5 separate regions of the Homo sapiens genome follow, and regions 2, 3, 4 and 5 are each linked to region 1. The links come from fine-mapping of genetic effects on gene expression. A gene starts in region 1. Each other region holds a variant in brackets. All regions are shown on one strand. Distances are from middle to middle.

Region 1 (4,120 bases):
GGATCTGTGCTGCAGGCCTATGGCTACCTGGGGGAAACTGCCTTGCCTGGGGTGGAGGCACCTCTGTTTCTGTTCAGCCGTACCTGCCCATTATACACTCAGACCCCATCTCTGGGCAGCTGCTGATTAGGACCCAGAATATTCCAGTGACAGTCCACTATGCATTGATACTCCCCCTCCCCCAGAAGAACCTGGCTAAATTGTTCATCAAACTGGGCCTCAAAACAAGATGGCAAAAACCCCTCTTTGTTGGGTTCTTGGCTCCTGGCTGACCAAGCTCCTGCCCAGCTCCCAGTTTGGAGCTGTGTTACTTACACACATACCCCTGGGCAAACCTTACCCTCTGACAATAACACATATTCCTCCAAGAAATTCCTAATACAAGCCCCAAGACGGACACCACTTAAGATTCCCTGTTGTCATCCACTCTTCTGCTCCTAGCACTGTGCCCTGCATGTTCCTGGTCATGGAGAACACGATTCTGCACAATTCTCCGTGCTCACACACTCATACACACGCAGTTTCTCCCGAGCACACGAGAATACACACAGCCTTGTTCCCAGCACACAGTTCCGCACTGATACAGAAAAACACTATCCCGGCAGACGGAACCACACACAACTGACAACTTCTCGTTAGGGACACAAGCGTACCCCTACACACACGCACGCACATACACCCCGCTCACCCCGGCACAGGCCCCGGCGCGCTTACCGGGCAGATGCAGGCCGCGGGCGCCGGGAAGCGGGCCGGGGCTGCGCGGGCTGCCGGCCGCGGCGCGCTCGAGCAGGAGGCCGTGGTCGGCGCGGCAGAGCAGCTCGTGCTCCCGCAGCGAGAACTCGTCCCCAGGCAGCAGCTGGCGGCTGCACACGGAGCAGCGGAAGCACTCGATGTGGTACACGCTGTCCCGCGCCCTCATCACCAGGTCGCTGCTGCTGAAGCCCACCTGGCACTTGGCGCACTTGATGCCGAACAGCCTGCGGGCCCAAGGTGCGGCGGTGTCAGCGCTGGGCCTGCGGCCGCCCTCATCTCCCTGGCTGCTACGGCTCCGGCGCGCGCCCAGGACACTTTGTGGCCACCAGGAGACTGCGGTGACCCGCCTGCGGGCATTCCCGGGCCCGGGGGAGCGCTGCGGCACCCGTGCGGGATGCGGATGGCCTTCTCCCTGGGCAGGGCCGGGGCGCGCGGGCAGGCCGCCATCCCCAGTCCCGGCCCCGGCCCCTGCGCGCGGTGGCCCAGCCCGCGTTCCCGCCGGCCTCACCTGACATAGTCCCGCTTGCAGTAGGTCTTCCCGTCTCTCACGAAGCACGTGCACGTCTCGTCCAGGTACTGGCTGCACTCGGCACACTTGAGGCAGGCCGCGTGCCACTCGAGGTCGGGCGACACCCGCAGGATAAACTGGTCGTGGATCTGACTCCCGCAGCCCACGCACATGGCCGTCCCGGGCTTCTCTGCCGGGGAAGGGCGCGGGGCCGCGTCAGGCCTGACTGCCCGGACCCAGGCCGGCCTCGGCTACTCCAGCCCCAACCCAACCCGCTCGCTCTCTTGCTCTTTCTTTCAAGACTTGCGACCATAAGGAAAGATGATGAGCTCTCTAAAGGTCCAGGGCATTGGAAACGAAAAACCAGTATCTTGTGGATTGCTGAAGGTTTCTTCTGTCCCCCACCCCAAATATTTCGTTATTACATTCATTAATGACAGTCGTTTTGTCGACGTGTCTTGAAACTAAACGCAAACACGAAACTAAGAAGAGAGTAAATACACAGGCACTGCGGACGCCTGGATATCAACACCTAACGGTGCTGTCCTGGCATTTCCGCTCACACACTCCCACTCACAGCGGCTGCCTCCTATCCCAACACAGACACATCGTCTTTCGGCAGTCCCCGCTCATCCTCTCAGACATTTCTTAGTTTAAATATCCCAGAGCAAGCGAAAGAAAGCTTCCTAGCTTTGAAAAACCGAAAGGCAAACAAACAACAACCAAAAAAAAAAAAACCCACATCCCTAAATCAAACCTAATTGCCTTTGCGCAAAACAGAAGCAGATTTCGCAGCCCGAAGTCATCCTAGCCGGCTTGAGAAATAGTGTTTACTTATAAAATAAAACAACAGGATTCCCAAAGATAAGCAGTCCTGCAGGAGACATGCATTCGTTTTTCCTCTCCTAAACTATTCTGACAAATAGAAGCCACTTGTAGAATCCACTAAACATTTTTCTGCATTAGAAATTTTGCATATTAAGCATACACACACACCCCACCCCACACACACACAGAAATACTTACTCTTGGAATGATCACCCATAGCACCCAGAAAAGGATAATGAAAAATAATATCCACCATGCAGAAAAAGAGATGTGCGCAAAGTGTGCGGCCAGGGGCAGAAGGACGAGGGTCGCGCGCCCGGCCTCGGCTCTTTGCTAACTAACTCCTACTGCCCCGCGGAGTTGAAGGAGCGATTCCGCACCGGCCCGCACGCAGCATGACGTCAACACGCACTAGCCCCGGGCCGGAGCTGGGGGCGGGACCTGTGGCGTCACGAAGCTTCCCCAGAACTGCCGGGGATGCGGGGGAGGTGATGGGGATCCAGGGGCTGATGGGCGGGGTGGGTTGGGTTGGAGGCTGGGGGTGAAGGGAGATTGGCTGGGAGGAAGTGGGCCAACCCTGATTGGCCCGGAGTGAACAATGGAGTGCAGCCCCCCCACCTCCGAAACCTACAAGGATCCTCTCTCATGCCCCGGGCCTGGCAATCTGGACTGGACCTTGCGTCACCGCCGAGCTGGCTCCGCGGCCGTTACAACTCTGAGCTTCCTCTTGGACTTTCGGGGCGGTTTTCCCAGGCGCGCTGGAGCTGGGTGATGGATACCTGAGGGTGGAGATGGCTCTCCTTTAAGAGCTCCCTTCTTATATAAATTAAAAAAAAAAAAATTAAACCCACTCTCAGGACGAGAGAGCCGAGGACAAGGGGGATCCGTTTGGACGTGACCGTCATCGTCCAGCTGGTCACCTTTCTCCTCTCATGTGCCTTTGTTCTTCGGGTCCAAGCTAGAGAGAGTGTAGAGAATGACCACCTGGGTTCTGATAAACTCTATTTAGACTTTCCTATCCACACACACGTAGAAAACTTTAGATTGGGGCATTACGTGGGTTGAGCCAGAACCCAGATCCAAAAGCGCTCACCCGGGACTGGGACGGGTCCTGACTCCATCCTTGCTGCTGCTGCCGCTGCTGCTGCCCCTCCTCCCTCTCCTCCACCACCACCTCCTCCTCCTGCTCCACTTCCTTTTTTTTGTTGTTTTGTTTTGCTTTTAATTTGTTGCTGTTGTTGTTTTAAATGTAACATGGACTTCCCCGCCCCCTCATTTTTCCCCCATCCAAATGGCATAGCTCCTTTTAGGAACACTGCTGGGGTCGATTGCGTGTCCAACTTCCAAAATAAAAGATTTTTCTAAACTCTTGTCCTTCATTAACAAACCCACTGCAATGCAAATAATCAGAAACGAACGTAAGGCGCTGGGTAATTTACAGTGGTATCTGCGAGGCGGCGGCTCGTTGGTCCTGAGAAAATCTGAGAGCTCTGAGCACAGTCCAGGCATTCTTTCAAAGAAATCGCTGTGGGTTTTGTTTGAAAGGGTTCAAAGACCGGCCCATGAATTATAAATAACATTTATCCAACCATGGTGTCTGTTCTTGTTTTCCCATTAAAAGGAGTACCAAGAACTTGGTGTGCGCCTGGGTGGGGCGCGAGGTGAAACGCCTGCGGATAAAGTGTCTCCACCGCCATTCCAGACCCTGCCCAGACCTTCGGGCTTGTGGGCCTGAGGGCGCGGTCGCTACTGCCGTTCTACTAAGAGCATGAGGTTGGTTGGCGTCGAAACGGATGCAGCCGAGGGCGCAGGCCGAGGCTTTGCAGAAGGCTAGGGCGAGGCCCCGAGTGCACGCTAACATTATTCGACCATGGTCCACGGTGAACGTTCCTCACCGGCCCCGCGCTGGGGCGAGCGCTTTAAGCCTCGTCCAGTAGCGTCCGGCTTTTGAGCTCCGCCTCCACCTTTAGGAGGTCTAGTCTTCTCACCGGTCCGGCTTTTTTTTTTTTTTTTTTTTTTTTTTTTTTGAGA
Region 2 (4,120 bases), 160 kb after region 1:
CTGTTACCAGGCTTAAACATGAAAGAGCGGGTGTAACGGAGACTTCAGAATGTGTTTCGGAACTAGAGCGAGATCCCACGCATGGAGGTACATAAAACCTCAGAGGTGGTTTCGTGAGATGAGTCAGAAGAGTATATCGTTGCATTGATTTAACTGCTGCATCTAAAATGGCTTTGGTTTCTGAAGCAGCCAAGACAGAGAGAGAGACAAGGCATCCACACCGTCTCTCTGAAGGGCAGCCTCTAGCATCGTGACTTTGGACTCCATCTGTGTACCAGCGAGCCTAACTCGTCATGAAATTCTGGCCAAGATCCACCCCTCACCAAAAACAAACAAACAAACAAAAAGAATGGAAAAGAACTTCCACCTAAGGAATTGAGGAATTGCTGAATTCAGGGGTCAGAAGCCATGTGCTTCTATCACAGCAGCGGGGAGTCTGGAAGGGACTGCAGAAGGCATGGCCAGGGCTTTGGAATGGTATGACTGACCAGCAGAGAGACCTCCTCCCCTCCCGGGATCCTCTAGGCACCCCTCCCCAAGTAGGAATCTGTTAAGCATGAGGTGTGTCCACAACCAGAAGAGATCATAGGAATGAGGGAAGCAGTGAAGCCTGTTTCCCTGTCAAAGCCAGAGGGCCAGTGTGATCCAGGAGGGAAGGCACTGGAATGAGCAACAAGAGACCTGTTTTCGTCCTGGCCTCATAACTGCTGTGCCACGTTGGGCCCACCTCTCCCTTTCTCTGAGCCTCAGATGCCCCATCTGCCAAATCCTGGATTGGGCCAGCTGCCCTCCCCAGGGACCTTTCATCTGTTATATAAGGTGATTCTGGAGCACCTTGCATGTGGGCCTGTGACAAGAAATGAACTGCCATGTAGCACAGAAGGTGAAATGAATCAGATATTCATGCAAGAAACTGGCCAACAGGCTCACCTGAGAGTCTCCACAGGGTCACGGTAAGAAGCAATGTAATCTTTCTTAAAAAGTTAAGATGGGCTGGGTGCGGTGGCTCATGCCTGTAATCACAGCACTTTGGGAGGGTGAGGCGGGTGGATCACCTGAGGTCAGGAGTTTGAGACCAGCCTGGTCAACATGGTGAAACCCCGTCTCTACTAAAAATACAAAAATTAGCTGGGCATGGTGGCAGGTGCCTGTAATCCCAGCTACCCGGGAAGCTGAGGCAGGAGAATCTCTTGAACCCAGGAGGTGGAGGTTGCAGTGAGCCAAGATGGCGCCACTACACTCCAGCCTGGGTGACAGAGTGAGACTCTGTTCCAAAAAAAAAAAAAAAAAAAAAAAAGCTTAAGATGAAGAAACAGAGAGTAACTGTGCAGTGGAGACACCTGACCCACGCTGCCCCAGCCGGGTGATCCAGGCCGCATCACAGTGAGAAGTCACGTGGCCAGTGTGTCCTCTTGATGTGAGACAATAAGAATGGCACTTTCCTTCTGCAGTCTTCCTCCCAAAACCCACAACCCCAGGCTTACCCTGGGAAAAACATCAGACGAATCCCAACAGAGGGGCATCCTGTAAAACAAAAACACCCGACCAGTGCTCCCCAAAACCCTTCAGGTCATCAGAAACAAAGTCTGAGAAATTGCCACAGCCAGGAGGAGCCTAAGCCTACTGAATGCGACGTGGAGCAAACAGAGGACATAACAGATTAAATACTAAGAAAACCTGAGTACCGTATCAATGTGGGTTTGTTCATTGTAACAAATGATACTAGTGTATGATGTTAATGATGGGCAGCCAGGCACAAGGGATACAGGGAACTCTGCACCTGCTTCACTATTTTTTGGTCAATATAAAACTGTTCTAAAAAATAAAGTTTATTTTTTTAAAAAGAGCTGGGTGAAGTTGTGGCAAATAGTTGAAATAGTTGTACAAACACACCCCAGCAAGAGAGCAAGGGAGTGAAAAGCGTTTTGTTTTGTTTTGTTTTGTTTTGTTTTAGAGACAGTCTTGCTCTGTGGCCCAGGCTGGAGTGCAGTGGTGTCATTACAGCTCACTGCAGCCTCAAACTTCTGGCCTCAAGCAGTCCTCCTGCCTCAGCCTTCCAGAGCACTGGGATTACAGGTGTGAGCCATCGCGCCAGGCCAGGTGTTGTATTTAAACTGGGACCCTAACACATTTCATTGGTAAATGTCAATTTTTCAGGCAGCATATGTGAATTCAGTTTGGAAATGTCTTCATTATACTCTGAGAATTCCAGCAAGGAGACAGCAAGAGTTTGTCACAAGGAATACTAGACTGTCCTGGAACGGGGTTGGGGGCTGCCA[T/C]TGAGACAGCTGAGGGGAGCCAGGTCTGTGCCTGCAGTATAAAATACCCCATGCATAATCTGATCAATGTTTTTGCTGAGTGCTAAGTGCCATGAGTAGGAAAAAGGAGGCTCAACGTGATGGGCTGGAAAAGAACAGTGTTCACAGTTAGGACACCTGGTTCTATGCCCCCCTGGACTAGCTGTGTGCCCCCAAGGCGAGCTGCCACTGCTCAGTTTTCTTATTTGTAAAATGGGTGTGTGGGGCAGGTGTGGTGGGGCTGGTGGACTTCGGGGTCCACACCCATTAGTTGCTACCCATCATGTGTCAGGCTTTAGGCTACGATCTCATCACCATCCTTCGAGGATTCTATTACTACACCCATTTTTCAGATTAGGAAAACCAAGGCCCATAGATGTCCCATTAATGCCCAAAGCCACAAGGCCAGTAAGTGTTCTAAAGAGAGACACACCTGGGTTCGAAGCCAGCTCAAAGTCTATTTAGAACCAAGTCTATTCTCAACCATTCCATGGGCTGCTGTCTCCAAGGGTCTAGCCATCTCTGACATTCCAGGGCCCACAGTCTCATTTCCTCCAGGGTATCTGTTACCCAGTCAAGTCTCAAACCAGGTCTGAAAATACAGCTGCAAGTGAGGCATCTGTCTGCTTCGCTCTGTGGAGTGGGCACCACAGACTCCAGGAGAGCTGCCCTCCTGGTCCCTCTGGCCAGGCAGCCCCCACCCTCCCCGGTGGCCCCACTGGGAGTCCAGCCTGTCTGGCCCTTTCTGCTGTCTTAACTAAGATGACAGGCTTCAGGTGTTTTTTAAATTAAAATGGTTCGTTTCTGTTCATCTCTTTTCCAGATGTCGCTACCTAGAGGGAATCTGTCTTTATTTATTGGCTCTTTCCTGTGCAGAATGCAAGGGAGTCTCCCTCCGGCTGAGACCCCCGGGAAGGAGGCCACATGTGGAGGTGACTTGAACCAGGACGGCAGGAACCTGGGGTCCCCGGGGGGCTCCGGACAGAGGTCATGGTGGAAACCCTGGGAGGTGGGGTTGCCGTTAGGATTTTCTCCTGGCCACGTGGCGCATGTGTGGCTGAGGTGAGGTGTGCGGCAGGGTCAGCGCGTTCCCTGCTGGGCTGGGAGGCTGCGAATTTATGAGGGGCGGATGCAGCCCTGTGTCCGTGTCTTTCACGTTGCCAACTGCAGTGAAGTAGAGCATTTGTTTTCCTGTTCAACAGCAGAATGAGAACTGCCTGATCGGCTTCCAGTCGCTTTCTGGATGACACCCTGCACTTTACTTTCCCCACTTCCCTGCAGCCCCCTCTGCCTAAAGCCCAGCTTCTCTCACCTTCTTCTCCAGCCTCTGTCCCCAGTCTTCCTGTCTCCACCCTGCCCTCTCCATCCAGCCTCCAACGGCAGCCAGAAGGCTCCATCAACAACTCACATCTGAGCAGATCCCCCAGTCCTGCTTTTAATCCTCCAGGCTTCCTCTGTCCCAGCAGGATAAAGCCCAAACTCTCTGGTCAGCCACAGAGCCCCTTCCCAAGCCTGTCCCCAATCCTACTGCCTCCCTCTGCTCACCCTCTAAATGGCCCCGAACCCCGGGGGCACTGCACCCACTCGCACACCCCACACTGTTCCCTCTGCCTGGCAGCCTTCTCCCCAGGGCTCTGCTCCACATCAGCTCCTCTGGAAAGCCTTCCCCATCCTGGCCTGCAGAGCCCGGGACGTGCCCATGTGATACAGGCATTGCACCAGATTTCCACTGCCTATTTATGGGCTGCCAAACCCCCTGAGTCACCCAGAGCCCCGTGAGGACGAGGGTCACACCCTGTCCTAGGCGGCATCCACATGCCCGG
Region 3 (4,120 bases), 480 kb before region 1:
CGCACCACTATGCCTGGCTAATTTTCTGTATTTTTTTTGTAGAGATGGAGTTTTGCCATGTTCCTCAGGCTTGTCTCCAACTCCTGCGCTCAAGTGATTTCTCGGCCCTGGCCTCCCAAAGTGCTGGGATTATAGGCGTGAGCCACCTTACTTGGCCCCTGCCATATTTTAAAATACTTTGATAGATCATTCTTCTTAGCCGTGAGCAATATTTCATTTTCTGGATGTACCACAGTTTGTTTATTCATTCATGTACTGAAGAACGTCTTGGTGGCTTCCAAGTTTTGTCAATTATGAATAAAGCTGCTATACACAGCTGTGTGCAGCTTTTTGTGTGGATGTAAGTTTTTAAATGGCTTTGGGTATTTACTAGGAGTGCAGTTGCTGGATCACATGGTAAGAGAACGTTTAGTTTTGTAAGAAACTGCCACACTGTCTTCCAAAGTAGCTGTACCATTATGCATTCCCACTAGCAATAAATGAGTGTTCCCATTGCTCTACATCCTCATCAGCATTTGCTGTTGTCAGTTTTCTGGATTTTGGTCATTCTAATAGGAGTGTAATAATATCTCATTGTTACTTTAATCTGCATTTCCCTGATGACTTATGATGTGGAGCATGTTTTCATATGTTTATTTTCCATTTGTATATCTTCTTTGGTGAAGTGTCTGTTAAGGACTTTGGCTTATTATTTAATCAAATTATTTTTCTTATTGTTGAGTTTTTTTTTTCTTTTTTAAAAAATTTTATTATTATTATACTTTAAGTTTTAGGGTACATGTGCACAACGTGCAGGTTTGTTACATATGTATACATGTGCCATGTTGGTGTGCTGCACCCATTAACTTGTCATTTAGCATTAGGTGTATCTCCTGATGCTATCCCTCCCCCCTCCCCCCAACCCACAACAGTCCCCAGTGTGTGATGTTCCCCTTCCTGTGTCCTTATGTTCTCATTGTTCAATTCCCACCTATGAGTGAGAACACGTGGTGTTTGGTTTTTTGTCCTTGCGATAGTTTGCTGAGAATGATGGTTTCCAGCTTCATCCATGTCCCTACAAAGGATATGAACTCATCATTTTTTGTGGCTGCATAGTATTCCATGGTGTATATGTGCCACATTTTCTTAATCCAGTCTATCCTTGTTGGACATTTGGGTTGGTTCCAAGTCTTTGCTATTGTGAATAGTGCCGCAATAAACATACATGTGCATGTGTCTTTATAGCAGCATGATTTATAGTCCTTTGGGTATATACCCAGTAATGGGATGGCTGGGTCAAATGGTATTTCTAGTTCTAGATCCCTGAGGAATCGCCACACCGACTTCCACAATGGTTGAACTAGTTTACCGTCCCACCAACAGTGTAAAAGTGTTCCTATTTCTCCACATCCTCTCCAGCACCTGTTGTTTCCTGACTTTTTAATGATCACCATTCAAACTGGTGTGAGATGGTATCTCATTGTGGTTTTGATTTGCATTTCTCTGATGTCCAGTGATGATGAGCATTTTTTCATGTGTCTTTTGGCTGCATAAATGTCTTCTTTTGAGAAATGTCTGCTCATATCCTTTGCCCACTTTTTGATGGGGTTGTTTTTTTCTTGTAAATTTGTTTGGGTTCATTGTAGATTCTGGATATTAGCTCTTTGTCAGATGAGTAGCTTGCAAAAATTTTCTCCCATTTTGTAGGTTGCCTGTTCACTCTGATGGTGGTTTCTTTTGCTGTGCAAAAGCCTTCCTCTCTCAACTGGTCAAAGTCATTCTCCGTCCAGCTTTGTTCTGTGCTGGTGAGGAGCTGCGTTCCTTTGGAGGAGGAGAGGCGCTCTGATTTTTAGAGTTTCC[G/A]GTTTTTCTACTCTGTTTTTTCCCTATCTTTGTGGTTTATCTACCTTTGGTCTTTGATGATGATGACGTACAGATGGGTTTTTGATGTGGATGTCCTTTCTGTTTGTTAGTTTTCCTTCTAACATTCAGGACCCTCAGCTGCAGGTCTGTTGGAGTTTGCTGGAGGTCCATTCCAGACCCTGTTTGCCTGGGTATCAGCAGCAGTGGCTGCAGAACAGAGGATATTGGTGAACTGCAAATGCTGCTGCCTGATCGTTCCTCTGGAAGTTTTGTCTCAGAGGAGTACCCAGCCATGTGAGGTGTCAGTCTGCCCCTACTGGGGGGTGGCTCCCAGTTAGGCTACTTGGGGATCAGGGACCCACTTGAGGAGGCAGTCTGCCTGTTCTCAGATCTCAAGCTGCATGCTGGGAGAACCACTACTGTCTTCAAAGCTGTCAGAGAGGGACATTAAAGTCTGCAGAGGCTACTGCTGCTTTTTGTTTGTCTGTGCCCTGCCCCCAGATGTGGAGCCCACAGAGGCAGGCAGGCCTCCTTGAGCAGTGGTGGGCTCCACCCAGTTCGAGCTTCCTGGCCGCTTTGTTTACCTACTCAAGTCTTGGCAATGGTGGGTGCTCCTCCCCCTGCCTCGCTGCCGCCTTGCAGTTTGATCTCCGACTGCTGTGCTAGCAATGAGGGAGGCTCCGTGGGCGTAGGACCCTCCGAGCCATGTGCGGGATATAATCTCCTGGTGTGCCGTTTGTTAAGCCTGTTGGAAAAGCACAGTATTAGCGTGGGATGACCCGATTTTCCAGGTGCCGTCTGTCACCCCTTTCTTTGACTAGGAAAGGGAATTCCCTGACCCCTTGGGCTTCCCTGGTGAGGCAATGCCTTGCCCTGCTTTGGCTCACGCACGGTGCGCTGCACCCACTGTCCTGCACCCACTGTCTGGCACTCCCCAGTGAGATGAACCTGGTACCTCAGTTGGAAATGCAGAAATCACCCATCTTCTGCGTCGCTCACGCTGGGAGCTGTAGACTGGAGCTGTTCCTATTTGGCCATCTTGGCTCCACCCCCCTTATTGTTGAGTTTTAAGAGTTTTTTGTATGTTTTGGATAACAGTGTCTCTTGTATGTCTTTTGCAAATATTTTCTCCCTGTCTGTGGCTTGTCTTATTCTCTCAATATTGTTTTTTGCAGAGCAGAAGTTTTTGATTTTAATGAGGTCCAGCTTATCAATTTTTTCATTCATGGACTGTGCCTTTGGTGTTGTATCTAACAATTCATTGTTGCATCCAAGACCATCTAGGTTTTTTCCCTGCAAGTTATACTTTAGGAGTTGTATAGTTTTGTATTTTACAGTTGGGTCTAGGATCCAATTTGAGTTAATTTTTGTGAAGATTATAAGTTCTGTGTCTAGATTCATTAGTTTTTGCATGTGATGTCCCATTTATTCTAGCATCATGTGTTGAAAAACAATCTTTGTTCCCTTGTATTGGCTTTGTACGTTAGTCAAAGATCAGTTGATTATATTTATGTGGGTCTGTTTCTGAGCTCTTTGTTCTGTTCCATTGACCTGTTGGTCTTTTATCCTAGTACCACCCTGTCTTGATTACTATAGCTTTTTAGTATTTCTTGACATTGGGTAGTGTTAGTCCACCAGCTTTGTTCTTCAAAATTGTATTGGCTCTACTGAGTCTTTTGCTTCTGCTGTAAACTTTAGAATCAGCTTAACTTGCTGGGATTTTGATTGAGATTGCATTGAATTTATAAATCAGGTTTGAAAGAACTGATTGACATTTTGACAATATTGAGTCATCCTATCCATGGATTATCTTTCCATTTACTTAGTTTTCTAATTTTTTTTATCAGAGTTTTGTTGTTTTCCTAATATAGATCTTATACATATTTTGTTAGTTTTATACCTAAGTATTTCATATTTTGGGGTGTTAATGTAAATGGTATTCTGTTTATTTACATATATATTTGTTATATATATTTGAGATTTATAACATGTTTTGACATACATATATGTAGTGAAATGATTACTGCAGTCTAGCAAATGAACCTATCACCTCACATAGTTACCTTTTTGTGTGTGTGGTAAGAGTAACAAAACTACTCTTTTAGTGAATTTTTAGTATACAATACGTTATCATTAACTAGTGCCCTCATGCTGTATATTAGATTTGTAGACCTGTTCATCCTACGTAATTAGAAGTTTGTATCCTTTAATCTACATCTCCCTATTTCCTTCCTCCCCCTGACCTTGTTAACCAACCACTGATTGTCCCTTTCTTTCTACG
Region 4 (4,120 bases), 110 kb before region 1:
AAGTGAGACAGCCTGGATTGAAATCCTGACCCTGATGTGATTTAACCTCTCTGAACCCTAGTTTTCTTGTCTGAATATAGGAATAACAATATTTATGATTTGTGAGAGTGTTGTGTCGATTAAGTGAAATGATCCAGATGAGCTGTTATCATGGAACCTCACATTAAGTGCCCACTAAATGTTAGCTGCTATTACTATTATCACTACTGCCCCTTCTACCACTATTTCTACAAGAAAATTCCCTGTGCAGTAAGAGTGGATATTACCTCTGGAAGAATCAGAGGTCTTAAGAAAGGGTTAAGCACTCATGCAACGCCCCTCTCGCCATCCCTTGGTGGTGTTAGAGAAGGCTGAGTGGGAAATCGAGATTTTAATCCTCATCCAGCAGTAATGATGCACCTCCACCCGGGGTGCATGGAGACTGTATTGGAAGCCTGATTTTTTACCCCTACTGAGAGATAGTGAGATTCTCCTTCCCCAGTCACCAGGATGGTGCCAGAAGGGGCCAAGTGAGATGCCAGGACTCACCAGCTTCCTGTGGTAACAAGCCCTATCCCATCCCCTCATGTGGAAACCCCTCCTGTGGAAACCAAGTAACATGCCATCTCCAGGTGGTGATATCAGTAACATGCCATCTCCAGGTGGCTAACTCAGAAGCCTGAATTCCTGCCCTCACCTGATAATGAGGCAGCCTTCACCCCCAGCTGACAGTAATGAGGTGACACTCCCTGCCCCCCATCAGAACAGTGTCAGAGGAGGTCTTCTAAAACAAGATTTCAATAAGATACAGTCTTATCATACACAAAGTTTCCAGAATATAATTTAAAAATCACTCATCATAGAAAGAACCAGGAAAATCTCAACCTGAATGAGAAAAGACAACAGATGTTACAATTCTTACATGGATTTTAAAGCAGCCACCATAAAAATGCTTCAACATGCAATTACAAATATGCTTAAAGCAAATGAAAAAGTAGTCTCGGCAAAGAAATAGAAGATATATTTTCTCACTTACAAGTGGAAACTAAGCTATGGGTATGCAAAGGCATACAGAGTGGTATAATGAACAATGGAGACTCAGGAGGAGAAAAGGTGAGAATAGGGTAAAGGATGAAATGGGTACAGTGTACACTATTCGGGTGACAGGTGCACAAAAATCCCAGACTTCACCACTATACAGTTCATCCATGTGACCAGAAACCACTTTGATCCCTAAAGCTATTGAAATAAAATAGAAGATATAAAGAATAACCAAGTGAAATGCTATAATTGAAAACTATAATAATCCAAAATTTTAAAAGTCAATGAATGTGCTCCAATGACTGAATGGGGAGAAAGGATGAAAGAATCAATGAATTTGAAGTTAGAATGATCAAAATTACCCAATCTGAAGAACAACAGAGAAAACAGACCAAAATGTTTTAAGTGACCAGAACCTAAGGACTGATGGAGCCATAACAAGAAATCTAACATTCATGTCACCAGACTCATGGGATCTAACATTCATGTCATCAGATTCATGGAAGTAGAAAAAAGACAGGGATGAAAAAGTATTTGAAGAAATAGTAGCTGAAATGGTCCCAAATTTGGCAAAAGATGTAAATGTGTGGGTTCAAGAAGCAGAGCAGACCACAAACAGAATAAACAAAAGGTAAATTGTTGGACTTAAGCCCTAACACATAGGTAATTAGATTAAACATAAATGGTTCTGAAATAACAAAATTTTATTTAAAAATGGGAAAGATTAGTTTACAGCAGTGAGGAGAGAGGGAAAACTTGTGGAAAAACTGAATTACATAATGAACATAAAAAATGTGAACTTTATTTTTTTAACTTAAGTTCCATCAAGTTCAAGACACTTTTATAAGTGGTACTACCAGCCACCTAATTCATCCCTAAAAAACTAAGGGTCCTGGGAATTTAACCATGTCAGTGCAATCTTTTTTACATTATTAACTGAAGAAAAATGGGGCCCTTTACAGATTTTTTAAGATTAGGAAACAAGAAGTCAGAAGGAGACAAATCAGGACTGAAAGGTGGATGCCCAATGATTTCCCATCAAAACTCTTGAAAAGTTGCCTACATTTGATGAGAATAAGCAGGAGTATTGCTGTGGTGGAAAAGGACCCTCTGGTGAAGCTTTCCCAGGTGTTACTCTGCTCATGCTCTGGCTAACCTTCTCAAAACGCACTCATAATGAGCAGATGTTATCATTCTTTCACCCTCCAGAAAGTCAAAAAGCAAAATGCCTTGAGCATCCCAAAATGTTGCCATGATCTTTGCTCTTGACTGGTCCGCATTTGCTTTGACTGGGCTATTTCCACCTCTTGGTAGCCATTGCTTTGATTGTGCTTTGTCTTCAGAATCATACTGGTAAAGCCATGTCCTATTGCAGTTCTTCCAAGAAGTGCTTCAGGATCTTAATCCCCCTTGTTTAAAATTTCCATTGAAAGCTGTGCTCTTGTCTGC[A/C]GCTGAGCTGGACACAATGGTTTCGGCACTCATCAAGTGGAAAGTTTGCACAACTTTAATTTTTCAGTCAGAATTGTATAAGCTACCAGTTGAGAAGTCTGTGGTGTTAGCTGTTGTTTCTGCTATTAATCATCAGTCACCTTCAATTAGAGCACAAAATGAATTCTTTCCTTGTAAATTGATGTAGATGGTCTGCTGGTGCAGGCTTCATCTTCAACATCATGTTGTCCCTTCTTAAAACAAGTTATCCATTTGTAAACTGCTGATTTCCTTGGGCCATTGTCCCCATAAACTTTTTGTAAAACACCAGTGATTTCACAATTCTTCCACCCAAGCTTCACCATAAATTTGATGTTTGTTCTTGCTTCAATGTTAGCAGAATTCGTCTTGCTCTTAAAGGGGATCTTTTCAAATGGATGTCTTATCTTTCTTTGTGCTTCCAACTAGAGCCTCTTCAGACATGTTATAACAAGTTGGTGTAAGTTTATTTTGGTGCAAAAATAATTGAAATCCATGCATAGTTTTTTCAAAATACACATTTTTCACAAACATTTTGAAGACCTCTTATATTAAGGAGCCCCTGCACTGTTTGGGAGGATGAACTAGATAATCAACTTTAGGCTTTCCAACTCTGGGAGTCTCTGATTTTCTCCATTCATCAAGGTCCACCATCTATCATTATTTTTAGAAGGTGATTCCCTCAGTGGTGGTGTTTTTTACCCCAACTTTCGCTGTTTATCTGTCTTCTCATTTGCATCAATACACATGCCCCCACCACCTTTTTCACTGGTTTTTTAAATTATTTCCTGGTTTTTGCCTGTATTCCAGATAGATGAGATTACTTGAATAACTTCATACTCATAAATAAAGACCTACAGAATCTGAGACTTAAAAGAGGTCTCAGAGATTGAGTCCATCCTTATACTAGGAAAGATATAATGGTGTTAGGGTATATCACCTAACATGGAGTCAGATGTTTTGAATTTGAGAAGCTGCTACATTATTTGCTGACTTCAAGATCTTGTGTAAGTTGCTTAACCTTTCTGAGCCTCTGTTTTCTCATTTGCATAATAGGCATAATAATAGATATACTGGAGGGTAGCTATAAACATTTAATGGATAAATATGTATAAGGGGACCTAGCTTGCCATCTTACAGTGGACTCTCAGTAAATATTAATTAAAGCTGAATGTCCTCATTTTATACATAAGGAACTGGATACTCACAAGTCATGCTGGTAGCAGCAGGTGAGATAGAATGAGAGAGACTCAGGCCTCCCAGGACAGTGCTCCCAACACACCAAAGTTGCTATGTAAATGCCTCTAAAACCTACCCATTCTTTCATTGGACAAATATTTAGGCACTGGAACTACAGAGACAAATTGTAACTCACAGTTTAGTAGGACAAACCAGTAAGAGACATTTAAAATGTAGTATAATGAGTGCTGCAGTAAAGCACAGCATGTACAAGGTGTTTGGGAATTACAGTGAGGCACATAACTTATTTTGGGGGGTGGGGAAAAGAAAAGATGTACCTCATAGACTACAGTAACTGAAGCAGGAGTAAGAGGTGAACACGTAGGATATTGCATAGAGAAGGATTTTGCGTGCAAAATTCCTTTCTTCCTTTAATTCACTTTACACCTTTGCC
Region 5 (4,120 bases), 380 kb before region 1:
AATGGAAAACAATAAAAGGCAGGGGTTGCAATCCTAGTCTCTGATAAAACAGACTTTAAACCAACAAAGATCAAAAGAGACAAGGCCATTACATAATGGTAAAGGGATCAATTCAACAAGAACTAACTATCCTAAATATACATGCACCCAATACAGGAGCACCCAGATTCATAAAGCAAGTCCTTAGAGACCTACAAAGAGACTTAGACTTCCACACAATAATAATGGGAGACTTTAACACCCCACTGTCAACATTAGACAGATCAATGAGACAGAAAGTTAACAAGGATATCCAGGAATTGAACTCAGCTCTGCACCAAGCAGACCTAATAGACATCTACAGAACTCTCCACCCCAAATCAACACAATATACATTCTTTTCAGCACACCACACCACACCTATTCCAAAATTGACCACATAGTTGGAAGTAAAACACTCCTCAGCAAATGTAAAAGAAGAGAAATTATAACAAACTGTCTCTCAGACCACAGTGCAATCAAACTAGAACTCAGGATTAAGAAACTCACTCAAAACTGCTAAACTTCATGGAAACTGAACAACCGGCTCCTGAATGACTACTGGGTAAATAATGAAATGAAGGCAGAAATAAAGATGTTCTTTGAAACCAACGAGAACAAAGACACAACATACCAAAATCTCTGGGACACATTCAAAGCAGTGTGTAGAGGGAAATTTATAGCCCTAAATACCCACAAGAGAAAGCAGGAAAGATCTAAAATTGACACCCTAACATCACAATTAAAAGAACCAGAGAAGCAAGAGCAAACACATTCAAAAGCTAGCAGAAGGCAAGAAATAACTAAGATCAGAGCAGAACTGAAGGAAATAGAGACACAAAAAAACCCTTCAAAAAATCAATGAATCCAGGAGCCTGTTTTTTTAAAAGATCAGCAAAATCGATAGACTGCTAGCAAGACTAATAAAGAAGAAAAGAGAGAAGAATCAAATAGGCATAATAAAAAATGACAAAGGAGATATCACCACCGATCCCACAGAAATACAAACTACCATCAGAGAATACTATAAACACCTCTATGCAAATAAACTAGAAAATCTAGAAGAAATGGATAAATTCCTTGACACATACACCCTCCCAAGACTTAACCAGGAAGAAGTTGAATCTCTGAATAGACCAATAACAGGCTCTGAAATTGAGGCAATAATTAATAGCTTACCAACCAAAGAAAGTCCAGGACCAGACGGATTCACAGCCGAATTCTACCAGAGGTACAAGGAGGAGCTGGTACCATTCCTTCTGAAACTATTGCAATCAATAGAAAAAGAGGGAATCCTCTCTAACTCATTTTATGAGGCCAGCATCATCCTGATACCAAAGCCTAGGAGAGACACAACCAAAAAAGAGAATTTTAGACCAATATCCTTGATGAACATTGATGCAAAAATCCTCAATAAAATACTGGCAAACCGAATCCAGCAACACATCGAAAAGCTTATCCACCATGATCAAGTGGGCTTCATCCCTGGGATGCAAGGCTGGTTCAACATACGCAAATCAATAAACGTAATCCAGCATATAAACAGAACCAAAGACAAAAACCACATGATTATCTCAATAGATGCAGAAAAGGCCTTTGACAAAATTCAACAACCCTTCATGCTAAAAATTCTCAATAAATTAGGTATTGATGGGACA[A/T]ATCTCAAAATAATAAGAGCTATCTATTGAAAACCCACAGCCAAAATCATAGTGAATGGACAAAAACCGGAAGCATTCCCTTTGAAAACTGGCACAAGACAGGGATGCCCTCTCTCACCACTCCTATTCAACATAGTGTTGGAAGTTCTGGCCAGGGCAGTCAGACAGGAGAAGGAAATAAAGGGCATTCAATTAGGAAAAGGGGAAGTCAAATTGTCCCTGTTTGCCGATGACATGATTGTATATCTAGAAAACCCCATCGTCTCAGCCCAAAATCTCCTTAAGCTGATAAGCAACTTCAGCAAAGTCTCAGGATACAAAATCAGTGTACAAAAATCACAAGCATTCTTATACACCAATAACAGACAAACAGAGAGCCAAATCATGAGTGAACTCCCATTCACAATTGCTTCAAAGAGAATAAAATACCTAGGAATCCACCTTACAAGGGACGTGAAGGACCTCTTCAAGGAGAACTACAAACCACTGCTCAATGAAATAAAAGAGGACACAAACAAATGGAAGAACATTCCATGCTCATGGGTAGGAAGAATCAATATCGTGAAAATGGCCATACTGCCCAAGGTAATTTATAGATTCAATGCCATCCCCATCAAGCTGCCAATGACTTTCTTCACAGAATTGGAAAAAACTACTTTAAAGTTCATATGGAACCAAAAAAGAGCCCGCATCGCCAAGTCAATCCTAAGCCAAAAGAACAAAGCTGGAGGCATCACACTACCTGACTTCAAACTATACTACAAGGCTACAGTAACCAAAACAGCATGGTACTGGTACCAAAACAGAGTTATAGACCAATGGAACAGAACAGAGCCCTCAGAAATAATGCCGCATATCTACAACTACCTGATCTTTGACAAACCTGAGAAAAAGAAGCAATGGGGAAAGGATTCCCTATTTAATAAAAGGTGCTGGGCAAACTGGCTAGCCATATGTAGAAAGCTGAAACTGGATCCCTTCCTTACACCTTATACAAAAATTAATTCAAGATGGATTAAAGACTTAAAGGTTAGACCTAAAACCATAAAAACCCTAGAAGAAAACCTAGGCATTACCATTCAGGACATAGGCATGGGCAAGGACTTCATGTCTAAAACACCAAAAGCAATGGCAACAAAAGCCAAAATTGACAAATGGGATCTAATTAAACTAAAGACCTTCTGCACAGCAAAAGAAACCACCATCAGAGTGAACAGGCAACCTACAGAATGGGAGAAAATTTTTGCAACCTACTCATCTGACAAAGGGCTAATATCCAGAATCTACAATGAACTCAAACAAATTTACAGGAAAAAAACAACCCCATCAAAAAGTGGGCAAAGGATATGAACAGACACTTCTCAAAAGAAGACATTTATGCAGCCAAGAACCACATGAAAAAGTGCTCATCATCACTCTCCATCAGAGAAATGCAAATCAAAACCACAATGAGATACCATCTCACACCAGTTAGAATGGCGATCATTAAAAAGTCAGGAAACAGCAGGTGCTGGAGAGGATGTGGAGAAATAGGAACACTTTTACACTGTTGGTGGGACTGTAAACTAGTTCAACCATTGTGGAAGTCAGTGTGGTGATTCCTCAGGGATCTAGAACTAGAAATACCATTTGACCCAGTCGTCCCATTACTGGGTATATACCCAAAGGATTATAAATCATGCTGCTATAAAGACACATTCACATGTATGTTTATTGTGGCACTATCCACAATAGCAAAGACTTGGAACCAACCCAAATGTCCAACAATGATAGACTGGATTAAGAAAATGTGGCACATATACACCATGGAATACTATGCAGCCATAAAAAATGATGAGTTCATGTCCTTTGTAGGGACAGAATGAAGCTGTAAACCATCATTCTCAGCAAACTATCGCAAGGACAAAAAACCGAACACCACATGTTCTCACTCATAGGTGGGAATTGAATAATGAGAACGCATGGACACAGGAAGGGGAACATCACACACTGGGGACTGTTGTGGGGTGGGGGGAGGGGGGAAGTATAGCATTAGGAGATATACCTAATGCTAAATGATGAGTTAATGGGTGCAGCACACCAACATGGCACATGTATACATATGTAACAAACCTGCACGTTGTGCACATGTACCCTAAAACTTAAAGTGTAATAATAATTAAAAAAAAAAAGAAATACCATTTATTTTGTTTCAGCAACCACAATAAATTCTGTTAAGCATTCTAATAATTAATCTTAGATTTTTTTTAGCGTTTTCTACGTAAATAAACATATAATCTACCAATATATAGTTGGGATTTTTTTCCTCATCTTTATGCCTTTTGTTTCGTTAGTGGGCATCTTATTTATAAGGAATGGGTTCCACAATTAACTATTAAAGATATCTGCCTTAGGTTTTTTAAAAAATAGTTTTTATTTGTTGTTTATTTAAGGTATACATCATA

What was found.
Region 2: its variant is fine-mapped to the expression of ISL2 in whole blood (INTERVAL, PIP above 0.99).
Region 3: its variant is fine-mapped to the expression of ISL2 in whole blood (TOPMed, PIP 0.94).
Region 4: its variant is fine-mapped to the expression of ISL2 in whole blood (TOPMed, PIP above 0.99).
Region 5: its variant is fine-mapped to the expression of ISL2 in whole blood (TOPMed, PIP above 0.99).

What each region holds. Positions count from the first base shown.
Region 1 is chr15:76,335,109-76,339,228 of GRCh38, reverse strand. ISL2 (ISL LIM homeobox 2) reads right to left here and starts at 2,456. Exons shown (of 6, transcript NM_145805.3): 1 at 2,288-2,456; 2 at 1,262-1,451; 3 at 715-977. The coding sequence starts at 2,345. RefSeq lists enhancers at 1,136-1,947, 2,373-2,422, 2,116-2,615, 2,427-2,721.
Region 2 is chr15:76,177,785-76,181,904 of GRCh38, reverse strand. All of the region lies in intron 8 of TMEM266 (transmembrane protein 266), which reads right to left. It overlaps LOC101929439 (a long non-coding RNA gene), which reads left to right and starts at 419. Exons shown (of 3, transcript NR_120360.1): 1 at 419-953; 2 at 3,121-3,359. RefSeq lists enhancers at 19-68, 279-328. The variant T/C (reference allele first, on the strand shown) is at 2,280.
Region 3 is chr15:76,817,374-76,821,493 of GRCh38, reverse strand. The region is part of intron 5 of SCAPER (S-phase cyclin A associated protein in the ER); the gene reads left to right. Among named protein-coding and RNA genes, the nearest start is that of SCAPER, 86 kb to the left of the region's middle. The variant G/A (reference allele first, on the strand shown) is at 1,840.
Region 4 is chr15:76,442,100-76,446,219 of GRCh38, reverse strand. All of the region lies in intron 25 of SCAPER (S-phase cyclin A associated protein in the ER), which reads left to right. Among named protein-coding and RNA genes, the nearest start is that of ISL2, 110 kb to the right of the region's middle. The variant A/C (reference allele first, on the strand shown) is at 2,470.
Region 5 is chr15:76,719,651-76,723,770 of GRCh38, reverse strand. All of the region lies in intron 17 of SCAPER (S-phase cyclin A associated protein in the ER), which reads left to right. Among named protein-coding and RNA genes, the nearest start is that of MIR3713, 140 kb to the right of the region's middle. The variant A/T (reference allele first, on the strand shown) is at 1,677.